Linked DNA regions of Homo sapiens. The protein of the gene in region 2 interacts with the protein of the main gene of each other region in a pairwise test. Each region holds a gene or a part of one and is shown on either strand. Other genes may lie near its edges. The genes, in order: HPGDS, LIF and NCALD.

Region 1 (3,750 bases), on a different chromosome or scaffold from region 2:
AATCGCTTGAACCCCAGAGGTGGAGGTTGCAGTGACCCAAGATCACGCCACTGCACTCCAGACTGGGCAGCAGAGTGAGACGCCGTCTCAAAAAAAAAAAAAAAAGAAAGAAAGAAATCACACCACATAAAAGGTTAAACACGAATCATAAAAATCTAGCTTGCCAAGTCTTGACTTTAAGTTTATATATTCCTGGAGTCTAGTGGGAAGAGGATGACCTGGAAATAACTGGTTGCCTATCTAGAAGCTCCCAGGTTCAGGAAGTGACGGTGATGGTAATTCCTAGCAAAACCATTTTTTCTGGCCCTGGCTTCTGTGTCCAGATGTTGTGGAGTGAAGCTGGTGCTCCTTGCTAAAACGAGAGAGCTACTGCCAATCATTCCTGCCCAGTTTGCATCAGCCAGTCCAGTCCCCACCCAACTGAGATGTAGCATTCACCGCATATATAGATATGTGGGGAAATGTCCTTGAAAGAGACAAGAATTGACTAAATAAATAAGAATTCCATGATTTACAGCCATAAATTTCTTTCAGGGAGAACTATACATATAAAGGAGTTCAAATTTGGGAGACTAAATGAAATGCCCATCAGAACAATGGAACTGTTTTCCAGGTTACTTAGAAATGTTGAGCTTAGAAATAAATAGTGGAAAAGGTCTAAGAGCACGAAAATAGTAAATAAAAAACATAATAATTAAGAGATTATTCTTATCCAGGAAAAGCATGATAGTTATAATTCCTGGACGTATTTGTTTTAAATATCAAAACAATTTTTAAAAGCCTACAGAGTGGAAAAAGTTTGATTATTAGTTGTGGTTTCTATTTGGTGTTTCGTTTTGTTTCGTTTTGTTTCGTTTTGTTTTGTTGCAGCACAGTCTCACTCTGTCCCCCAGTCTGGAGTGCAGTGGCTCAATCTGGGCTCACTGCAACCTCCGCCTCCTGGATTCAAGCAATTCTCCTGCCTCAGCCTCCTGAGTAGCTGGGATTACAGGCATGCACCATCATGCCTGGCTAATTTTTCTATTTCTAGTAGAGATGGGGTTTCACTTATGTTGGCCAGACTGGTCTCAGATTGGTCTCCCAACCTCAGGTAATCCACCCCCCTTGGCCTCCCAAAGTGCTGGGATTACAGGCGTGAGCCACTGTGCCCAGCCTGCAGCTTCTATTTGAAAAGCATTCTATATAAAACTTTTTATTGGTTTTGTTGGCATAGTCAATGTTTCCACAGCATGAAGAAATTATATTTTCTCCCTTTAATATTAAAAGTTATTAGCATTACGTGGGGCACCATGGCTCACGCCTGTAATCCTAGCACTTTGGGAGGCCAATGCAGGCAGATCACAAGGTCAGGAGTTTGAGACCAGCTTGGCCAACATGGTGAAACCCCGTCTCTACCAAAAATACAAAAATTAGCTGGGGGTGGTGGCGGGCGCCTGTAATCCCAGCTACTCAGGAGGCTGAGGCAGAAAAATCACTGAAACCCAGGAGGCAGAGGTTGCAGTGAGCCAAGATCCTGCCATTGCACTCCAGCCTGGGGGACAGGGCAAGACTCCATCTCGAAAAAAGAAAAAAAAGTTAACAGCATTAAAAGTTAAACATACAACCTTTTCTCATTCAGTCAATTACCACATAGATACCAGTGTCCACCTGTTGAATTCTGCATGAAAACAAAGTGATTGTTTTTTATTATTGTTAATTTTCAAAATCATGCTATTTTATATTGTATTTCACTCAAGTAAAGAAGACATTTAAAAATTCTCAGCATAGGTTGGTAGCTATCTATATTTCTCTGCAAAAATATCTTGAAGTCTAAGATTTGGCAGAGGCCCAATAGCAGCTAACAAATGCTTATCTTTCCTTTTAAAATATTCTTTCAACAGTTGTAACTCATTAATGAAGCTGTACTTTTTACATGACATTTCTGTAGTTATTTGCATAATTATATTTTCTGTTTGTCTCAGGAATACCAGATGTTATATCAGAACATCCATCTGTATAATAAACTACATTAAAAGAGAAAAATCAGGCCGGGTGCAGTGGCTCACGTCTGTAATCCCGGCACTTTGGGAGGCCGAGGCGGGCAGATCACTTGAGGTCAGGAGTTTGAGACCAGCCTGGCCAACATGGTGAAACCCCGTCTCTACAAAAAAATATACAAATTAGCTGGATGTGGTGGTGTGAGCCTGTAATTCCAGCTACTCAGGTGGCTAAGGCACGAGAATTGCTTGAACCTGGGAGGCAGAGGTTGCAGTGAGCCAAGACCGCGACACTTCACTCCAGCCTGGGCGACAGTGAGACACTCTCTCTCAAAAATAAGAAACAGAATTATCATGAAACATACTATCATCTCAATAGATACTAAATGCTTTTAAAAAGCATTTATAACATTATCACTCATTTGTGATCAAAATTCTTAGCAAAATGAAAAAACAAAATAAAATACCTCTTATCAAACTAGCAATAGAAGAATACTTCCTTAACCATATAAAGAGTCTCTACTAAAAACTTATAGCAAATATAATACATAATGGTGAATCAATAAAAGCATTTTCTTTAATGTCAGAAGTAACAAGAATCCCACTATAACATCTACTATTCAGCATAATGCTGGACAGCCTAGCTAATTCAATAATGTAAGACAACAATAAATAACATTTGTTAAGTAGTAGGAAGGGAGCGACACAGCATCCATTTGCTGTGTCCAAAATGATTGTCTATATTTAAACTTCGAGAGATTCTACAGATAAACTGGATCCTAGATTTCAAATGGAAATGCTAAGGACCAAAATAGCCAAGACAAAGAAAAAAAGAGAACAGGAGAGGAGGACCTGATGTACCAGATAGCAAGACTTAGATAAAAAGCCTTGTAATGCGGTATTTGCTCAGAGGTGCATTGTCTTAAAACAGAACCTCATATATAGGACAGACATGACATAGAGTGAGGACTAAATGGTTCTGAGACTGAAACTAGACTAAAATGGTTCTGAGACAATAGAGGGAAAATAAGCATAATTAGACCCCAACTTTCTATCAAACACAGAAATAACATCTAGGTTATCTTGGTATGATTTGACTAGCATAGCAAAACTGCAGTATCATTCTGGTCCCTTATTTCCTGTTAGCTTCATTTCTGAACCCTTCCACTGTCGTTGTGTTAAGAATCTCATGTAGAGAAAACTGCATGTTTCCTGAAATGATACAGAAGCCTGAAGTTTAAAAGCTGATTGTGTTTGAAGATATTTACATCTAAAGATCTTTGCATCTAAAATTAACCACTGGCTTCCTTACACCCCAAAGTATATCGTGTAAAGTTACTAATTCAGCAGATAGATAAAAAGCTCATTTAGAATTCTGTTTGAAAAATAACCTATACGGTTTATCAAAGAACACATAAACGACTAATAAATACCCTGGATAAAAACTTAGACATATAAACTCATATGAACATAGCTATCCACTGCAGAAGATTTAACTTTTAATATTAATATATGCATTAGGAAATAAGCTCTTTTATATGGGAAATAACAGTGTTTTTAAAGTACTATCTTGGGTACTTCCTTTCTTTCTCTTTCTTTCTTGTAGCTTTTTTTTACTTTATAGAATGCTTGTTATGGTTTGGCTATATCCCCACCAGAATCTCATCTTGAATTGTAGCTCCCATAATTCCCACTTGTCATGGGAGGGACCCGGTGGGAGATAATTGAATCATGGGGGCGGTTTCCCCCATACTGACTTCATGGTAGTAAATAA
Region 2 (3,750 bases):
TCAGTGTCTTCTAGACCCTGTCCTCACTTCCTGTTTCCTGTGGGGTGGGGCTGAGATTAAACAGCGATTGGGGGTGGATTATAGGGCTGATGTGGGGTCTGGCTTGCCAGAAGGCATGCAAGGGCCTGGGGGTCCGCTTGGAAGGATGCAGGGGAGACTGGGCAGAATGGTAGATGTAGGGGCAGCTGCAGAACTCTTGAGCCTAATGAGAGACTCAGGCCGGGCGACGGGGGTTTGATGGGTGGAGGCCACAGTGAGCCCCTGGTCACATGGATTTGGGGTCCATGTCAGGAGAGCCAGGCTGAGTCAGGTGGCAGGGGTCTGGGTGATGTGGGATGGGACTGGGGACTGGTCCAGAGCTCACGTGCTCTGAGTGGTCAGGTCCTTGTGCAGGAGATGCTGGGGGAGGTGTAAGAAGAAGGGTTGAGCTGGGGTGTCCTGGGATGTGGGGTTACCTGAGCCAGGCCAGGGCAGGTGAGTCTCCTAGTAGTGTACGCTGACCCCAGAGCAAGTGTATAGGAGCAGTAAGTGCCAAGTGGGGCCCTCCATGGTCCCTCAAAGAAGAGACAAGGTGTGGGGTGAGAGGCAGGAAGGAGGAAGGAGAGCCAGTTCGGGAAGTGCCAGCTGGGATGGGCAGTTTTATCACCTCACATCCGAGGCCCTGCTGGGAGAGAATGGGGGGCAAGAGCGTAGATAAAGCAGGGTGTGTGTGTGGTGGGGAACGGCAGCAGGCACCAGGGCTCGTCCTGGCACGATGAAGGAGGAACCCGTGGCTGGGCAGGTCTGGGATGTGGCAAGAGGCAGGAACTGGGGGCATGGAGGATGGGCGAGGGGGCGGTGGGGGCCCGGGCGAGGCTGCAAGAGCTCCCTGGCCTTGGAAAACCAACTCACACACCTTGATCTCAGGTCAGGGTCAGGCGGAAGGGCTGGGAAGGGGCCACAGGGGACTAAATCATCTCCTGGTACTGGGGGTCCCCTGGCAGCTTTAGGGACGGCATGGCCCCAGACGCGTGGCCATGCTGTCTGGCCGGCATTCCCGCATCTCATAGGGTGTATTTATTTTCACTTTTCTGTTGCATTTCTTGGAGGTGTCCCTGTGCTCATTTTGCCCGGCTCCCCACTGCTCCTTTCTGCCCTTCCTCATTCACAAATCGCCTGGCCTCAGAAGACGCCAGAACATGTGACACTGCCTTAGAGCCTCTAGAAGCACTTTTTGGGGACCTCCATCATTCTCTGAGGCTGGGCTCAAAGGGGCTTCCAAGGCAGGTCTGGAAGGGACCAGCCACTTCTCAGTTTCCCCAACCATCAATCAGCACCCGGAGGAGGAAACTGGGGTACGATTTCGCCAAGCCTCTCTCAGTCCTGCTTCAGAATGGAAATGCTGGACCGCCTTCCCAGAAGCACCTTCCCAGAGTGTCCCGACAGAACTGAGTCAGTCACCCCTACCCCCATGTCTTCCTAGCCCCTTCCCCAGCCTCACAGGTACAGTGGTCAGCAGGGCGAGTGCACTGGTGGTGTCTGGAGGCCTGACCCTCTGGGGCCCTGGGCAACGTGTTCCCCTCGGAGCCCCTTGGGGCCCAGTGGCAATGTGCAGATTGGAGGAGGCTACCTCTGGGGTGGCTTCCAGCGCCCATGTTCAGTTCCACTTTATGACCGTCTAAAGTCCACGCCGGCCCCGGCCCCTCCTCCTGGAGCCTCCTTCTCAGCCAAGCCCTAGCCCTCCTCCTCCCACTGCCCCCCTAAAGCCCCCCAACCAGGGGGCACAGGGGCCAGTCTCCATCTGCTAGTCCAGACTCGCTACCTCCCCAAACCCAGGTGAGTCAGGGCCGTCTGGGGCGCCCACTGCTGGGACCCCTGCTGACTCGGCCAGGGGCCCCCTCCTGGCGATGCCCATCTTCAGACAACTCCCGGGACAAGCCAGGCAGGAAAACCACAGGGCGTTTTGTCGAAGGCTTCATTATAATTTTATCAATCAAATTCTTAGAAGAGGGAAAAAGTCTGTTCTCCCCACCCTCCCCCCTCACTCGTCCCCCCCCTTCACTCTCACTTTCTTCCATTCATAATTTCCTATGATGCACCTCAAACAACTTCCTGGACTGGGGATCCCGGCTAAATATAGCTGTTTCTGTCTTACAACACAGGCTCCAGTATATAAATCAGGCAAATTCCCCATTTGAGCATGAACCTCTGAAAACTGCCGGCATCTGAGGTTTCCTCCAAGGCCCTCTGAAGTGCAGCCCATAATGAAGGTCTTGGCGGCAGGTAAATACACCCGCCCCGCGCCGGCTTCGCGTCCCCGCTGCGGGGCGCGGCGGCAACTTGGGGCGCTTGGCAGCGCGAGCCGGACGCCCACCCGCCGCAGACACACGAACACTTGGGGCGCCCGCGCAGCCACCGGAGGCGCTGGGTGGCGGCCCGGAGCGAGCGCGGGCACATGGTCCCAAGCACCGCACGCCCCGCGGCAGGTTGGCGGCGAGGGAGGGGGCGCCGAGCCTTCCTCCTCCTCCTCTTCTTCCCCCTCTCCTTCTCCTCCTCCTCCTCCTCGCTCCGGACACTCGCTGGCTGCTCTTCCCTCTGCGCTTTCTCCCAGATTCACTCTCCCTCTCTCTTTTTCTTTTCTTTCTTTCTTTCCGCTTTCTCCTTTCCAACCGCGGTCCCGGGCTGCTCCCAGGGAGGGGCGCGGGCGGCGAGCAGCTTGCAAACTCCGGCCTGGGACGGGAGCAGGTGCCGCCTCCATCTGCTGGTGTCTGGAAGCGTGTGGTCTGCGCTAGGTGAGATATAGGGGTGTGGCCCCCCTCCCGCAGCCACCCCGGGGCCTCAGCACTGCCTTGGGATGCTGGGACGAACAGGGGACCCAGGAGAAGTGAACTTGAGGAGGCCCCTGTCCCCGCTGTTCCAGCATGGGGGATCCGGGGGAGGTCTCCAGCCTCACTCGCCCGCTGACCCCGGCCCCCACCATCTTCAGGTGCCCTTCTGCAGAGCCCTGGAAAAGCGTCTAAGGGGGCCTGGGGGGAGTCGGGAGAACAGGCCCCCCTGGGGGAGGGGCAAACCAGGACATGTCGGGACAGCTCCCAGCTCTCCTGTCACCTTTCACTTTCCTTCCTCCCCGCCCACCCGACTGCCTATGACCTTTTGCCTTTTCTCTCTCCTGGTGCACCATTTCCTCTCCCTCCCTGAGCCGGTGTGTGTGTGTTAGGAGGGAGGGGAACCCCTGGGACAAGGGACAGCGGATGAGTCGGGAGAAGGCATGGAGTCAGGGGCTGTCCGGAGCTGGGGGAACAGAGAGTTTTGAATGATGATTTGGGGATGGAGAGTGGGGACAGCCAGGCAGAAATGGGGTGAGCTTGAGTGAGATAGGGGACACTAGGGAAGGAAGAGATAGAGGATGATGGGGGCGGGGGCAGAATTGGGGGCAATTGGCCCAGGGAGCCAGAATCAAGTGGCAGGTTTGGGAGGGAGATGAGGGTCAACCGAGGACTCCTCCCCACTCCCCCATGCCCCGTGGCCCCCATGGGTGCCTGGCTTCGGAGATTTGGGCTGCAATGGGCCAGTGAGTGGGAAGCGCTGCTGAGGAACCTGGGCCACCACGGGAGGTGGGAAGAGAGGGGTCTCCTTTCTCCTGGTGCCTGCTGGGCCTGGGGCCTGGTGCCTTCCAGCCAGAGGGCCAGGGGGCCTTAGGACCTTTGCCTTCCTGAGGGAAAGGGTGGGATGGCTGGGAGTCTCTCCTGGACCCTGCACCCTTTGGGTGGA
Region 3 (3,750 bases), on a different chromosome or scaffold from region 2:
ATTACGATATAATTCACACACTGTGAATATATGGTATTCATATATACAGTTAAACCAGTTTCTTCTACTAATTAAAATACTAGCTGTATTACATGTAGTGCTCTAAAATTTGCCCCTTTTTCTGTTAAACTTGTAAGATTTAGACACCTGGTTATAAATCTAGACTTTGGCTAACTTCAGTACTACAGGTATTCTTTAAATTAGAAGCTCCAAAACAATTCAACCTGTATGTCATGAAAGAAAATCTGAAATTACTAAACTTGGGAAGGAAAGGAACTACAATACAAAGAAAACAATTTGTAGTAAATAGTATTATAGGAATAAAGAGATAAAAATTCTTATTAATCACAGTTATCAAATTATTCATTTAAGATCCAGAGCAAATTGTGAGTGACTACTTCTATCTGTGTTTGAGTTAAAGTAGAACTTGTGTCAATGATACTTTTCATTTTAGGGCTATTGTTTTTTTCTTTAGGTAATTATGACGATTTTTAAAAATAACAACAGCTTACATGACTCCTTAGTAAAGACCACCTCATGCCATTCTCTTCACAGCTGAATTTTCAGGGGAGGATACTGGAAATATGCACTTTGCTCTAACAACCAAAAAGCAATTGCATGCACACATGTAAAAGGTTCCACCCCAACTTCCTTGGCATATTCCCGATTATTTCTCTCTAAACAGGAAACTGTTGACAATTTTTCCTGGTACTTTCAGAATACCAAAGGTTTTACTTACAAGCAAAATCCCAACTTTTGTTTCAGTTATAATGTTATTTCCCGTGGTTCCTATTGTTGCTAAATATGAATGCTGCAAACAAGATAGAAACCAAATTCCAAACTATTTTAGGCTGATTCAGAATTGAGTAGCAATTGTAAAAAGAAAAGTTAGAAACACATTGCAAGGCTATGCTGGAGTTTTTAAACCCAAAACAATACTGAAGGGAGGATTCCTGGAATTCAAGAGAGAATATTTGGCTCAAGCTGCAAAATCCGTATGTCTAAATAATGTTATGTTAGCAAGTGTTGAGCAAGCAAGACGATTATATTTTAACCTACTTCACAAAACATTAATCCAAATTTAACCAAATTCCAGAGAACCTGCCTGAAATTCACAACTAGAAGCTGCTTCACATTTTCCCCTTGGTACAACAATAATTGCTCATGAATACAAACTTGTAGGAGGTAAGAGAGAGGGGAAAACCACAATGAGCTATAAAAACATCTAACTATTGTATATAAAGCAAACTAATTACCTCACTCAGAAGAAGTGCAAGATTTAACAGTCCATGCTCTGCAGCCCCTGGAAACAGCAGTAGCAGCAGCAGCAAGGTCCAGCATCCACCAGATTCTCACAAGCCTTTGACTGTGTGGACTCAGCCACAGACTCTGCCTCTAGCTGACGTCAAAGTCCCTGTCACATGGCCAGATGAAAGCCAAGAGATCATTGGTTGTCGTAGCAACCACAGACCGGCTCTGAAATTATTTCAATAGGTCATCTGTCACTGTGGTGTGTGTGTGTGAGAGAGAGAGTATGTGTGTACGCACACACCATAGAACCATCACGGACAGCTCCTTGACAACCTCAACCCCCGAAGTTGTGACTCCAGAATGCCTACAACTTTCCTCTTTAAGGCTTTGGTGTCTTTTCTCTACAGTTACTTGCAGGAAAATATATGCCACCCTGAAGTTCTCATTTGTTTCACTACCATCAGCATGAAGCATGTCTCTCTCTCTCTCTTTCTCTATAACAAAAGGAAAGAAACTGAAAAATTCTGGAGTAGTTTTCTTAGCCAATTAAACTTATTTGCAAGCAAATATATAAAAACAGAAGCTCAGGGGGAGGGGTTGGAAGAAAATGTATTTTAAAAACTATATCAGAGTCTACATGGATATACTGAGACCATGCTTGTGATGGAAAGAAAAATAAAAAACAGTGGCTTGGGTTCATGACAGTGGCTTATGACTCAGAGACAGGTAAGACAGTCTAATGATCCTGACACCAAGTAGGATGTAGACATCAGATAACATAAATTCAGGATTCCTGTACTGTAAAATGTCTAGGTAAAAATGAGGACCGAAGGAGTTTCAAAACAGTGTTACTTTAAAATAACCATGTGAGTAAGCTGAAAACTGTGCTTTGGGGCCATACGGGTGCCAAATGCTCCCCTCTTGAGTCCTCTCATCCACACCCCTTTGCTGAGACTCAACATTGAGTAAACAGGGCCAGTGTTCCACAAACACAAAGTGTAATGAAAGCCCAGAGCCATAGAATGAAAGGGTTATCTCACATGTTTTCTAACATCAGCTTTATTTCCTTTACGACGACCCTAGCTTACTTTTAACTCTGCACACGTGCCTATTTCCCAGTTAATTCTCTTTCTTAATTAATGGGAAGCCGATTAAACAAAATCAATGAAACTCACAAGAAGGTACTCTGAAAAAGACATTCAGAAAATGTATGCCCAAACAAAGGACAAGGAGTTAAAAGGCAGGGGAGAAGAGACTGCCCTCAAAACCCTAAGGACCTTTATATGCTAGGCTTATAACGACTTCTATTCTGTTTCTTAAAATAAATAAATAAATAAAAAAGAGTAGCTCTGGGGTGCTACAAAATATAAATGGAACCTAAGTCAGCCAGGCAGATTACATTTGTGTCACTGTAAAAGAATGAAATTTCTTTAGTAGAATCAGAAATTGCTTCTTTAATAATAAGACTAATGTTCAAATCACTTGGTCATAGAATCGTCCTACTCCATCCTCCTTTTCATCTTCCTTTATTTCTGTCCCAGCCCCAATTGGGAGAAAAGATAGATTTTTATTTAAAAAGTTATTTTCCTGATGCGATTAGCTGTGGCACTGCAAAACCGAAATCAAACTATAAGGAACTTTCCTCCTTTAATTTCAGATTAATGACAGCTGGGAATTTACCTGTTTGAACAAGGACAATGGAATCCAATGTCTACCTAAAGCCTCACTAGGGGCAGATTTCACCAACAGCCACAATTCATAAACTGACAATTTGTTCCAATTATTGTTCTGCTTTTATGTTCAGAAATGCACATCATACAAATGAGGGAACCGGAAGAGGCAGAGAAACATACCCTTCTAGCTTTCCCTGGACCCACGTTCTCTGAGCTGCTTAATTTACCATCTCTCTGGCTCTAATCCATAGCTGCCTAATTAATTCTTCCTCCTCTTTATGCAGCTTTAGCATTTAAGAGAGAAAAACTGCAGTGCCACATTCTGCTAATAGGTGATGTCTTCTGAAATAAGAAGTTCTCAGTTCTAAAAAAAAAAAAAAATGCCTAAAATTCAGGACTTTAAATGGATTAATTTGAAAATTAGCAAAAAACCAACACTTTTACTTTGACTGGTTTAGCATTTTTAAGACTAAGTATACTTTATACTGCCTTGGGCAGTATTAAAATATTCAGTGAACTATTAAAATATTCAGTGAACTGGCTGGGCATGGTGGCTCACGCCTGTAATACCAGCACTTTGGGAGGCTGAGGCCGGTGGATCACAAGGTCAGGAGATCAAGACCATCCTGGCTAACACGGTGAAACCCCGTCTCTATTAAAAATACAAAAAATTAGCCAGGCATGGTGGCACATGCCTGTATTCCCAGCTACTCAGGAGGCTGAGGCAGGAGGATCGCTTGAACCTGGGAGGTGGAGGTTGCAGTGAGCCAAGATCATGCCACTGCACTCCAGCCTGGGTGACAGAGTGAGACTCCGTCTCAAAAAA

The links.
Region 1: the proteins of LIF (region 2) and HPGDS interact in binary tests that used the Homo sapiens proteins (3 or more experiments, as listed by UniProt).
Region 3: the proteins of LIF (region 2) and NCALD interact in binary tests that used the Homo sapiens proteins (3 or more experiments, as listed by UniProt).

What each region holds. Positions count from the first base shown.
Region 1 is NC_000004.12:94,336,117-94,339,866, forward strand, and holds part of HPGDS (hematopoietic prostaglandin D synthase), read right to left. Parts: intron 1-3,750. UniProt on the Homo sapiens protein: Bifunctional enzyme which catalyzes both the conversion of PGH2 to PGD2, a prostaglandin involved in smooth muscle contraction/relaxation and a potent inhibitor of platelet aggregation, and the conjugation of glutathione with a wide range of aryl halides and organic isothiocyanates.
Region 2 is NC_000022.11:30,245,189-30,248,938, reverse strand, and holds the start of LIF (leukemia inhibitory factor isoform 1 precursor), read left to right. Parts: upstream 1-2,179; 5' UTR 2,180-2,243; coding exon 2,244-2,262; exon of another isoform or gene 2,263-2,434; coding exon of another isoform or gene 2,435-2,771; intron 2,772-3,750. UniProt on the Homo sapiens protein: LIF has the capacity to induce terminal differentiation in leukemic cells.
Region 3 is NC_000008.11:101,789,606-101,793,355, forward strand, and holds the start of NCALD (neurocalcin-delta), read right to left. Parts: upstream 1,365-3,750; 5' UTR 1,257-1,364; intron 1-1,256. UniProt on the Homo sapiens protein: May be involved in the calcium-dependent regulation of rhodopsin phosphorylation. Binds three calcium ions.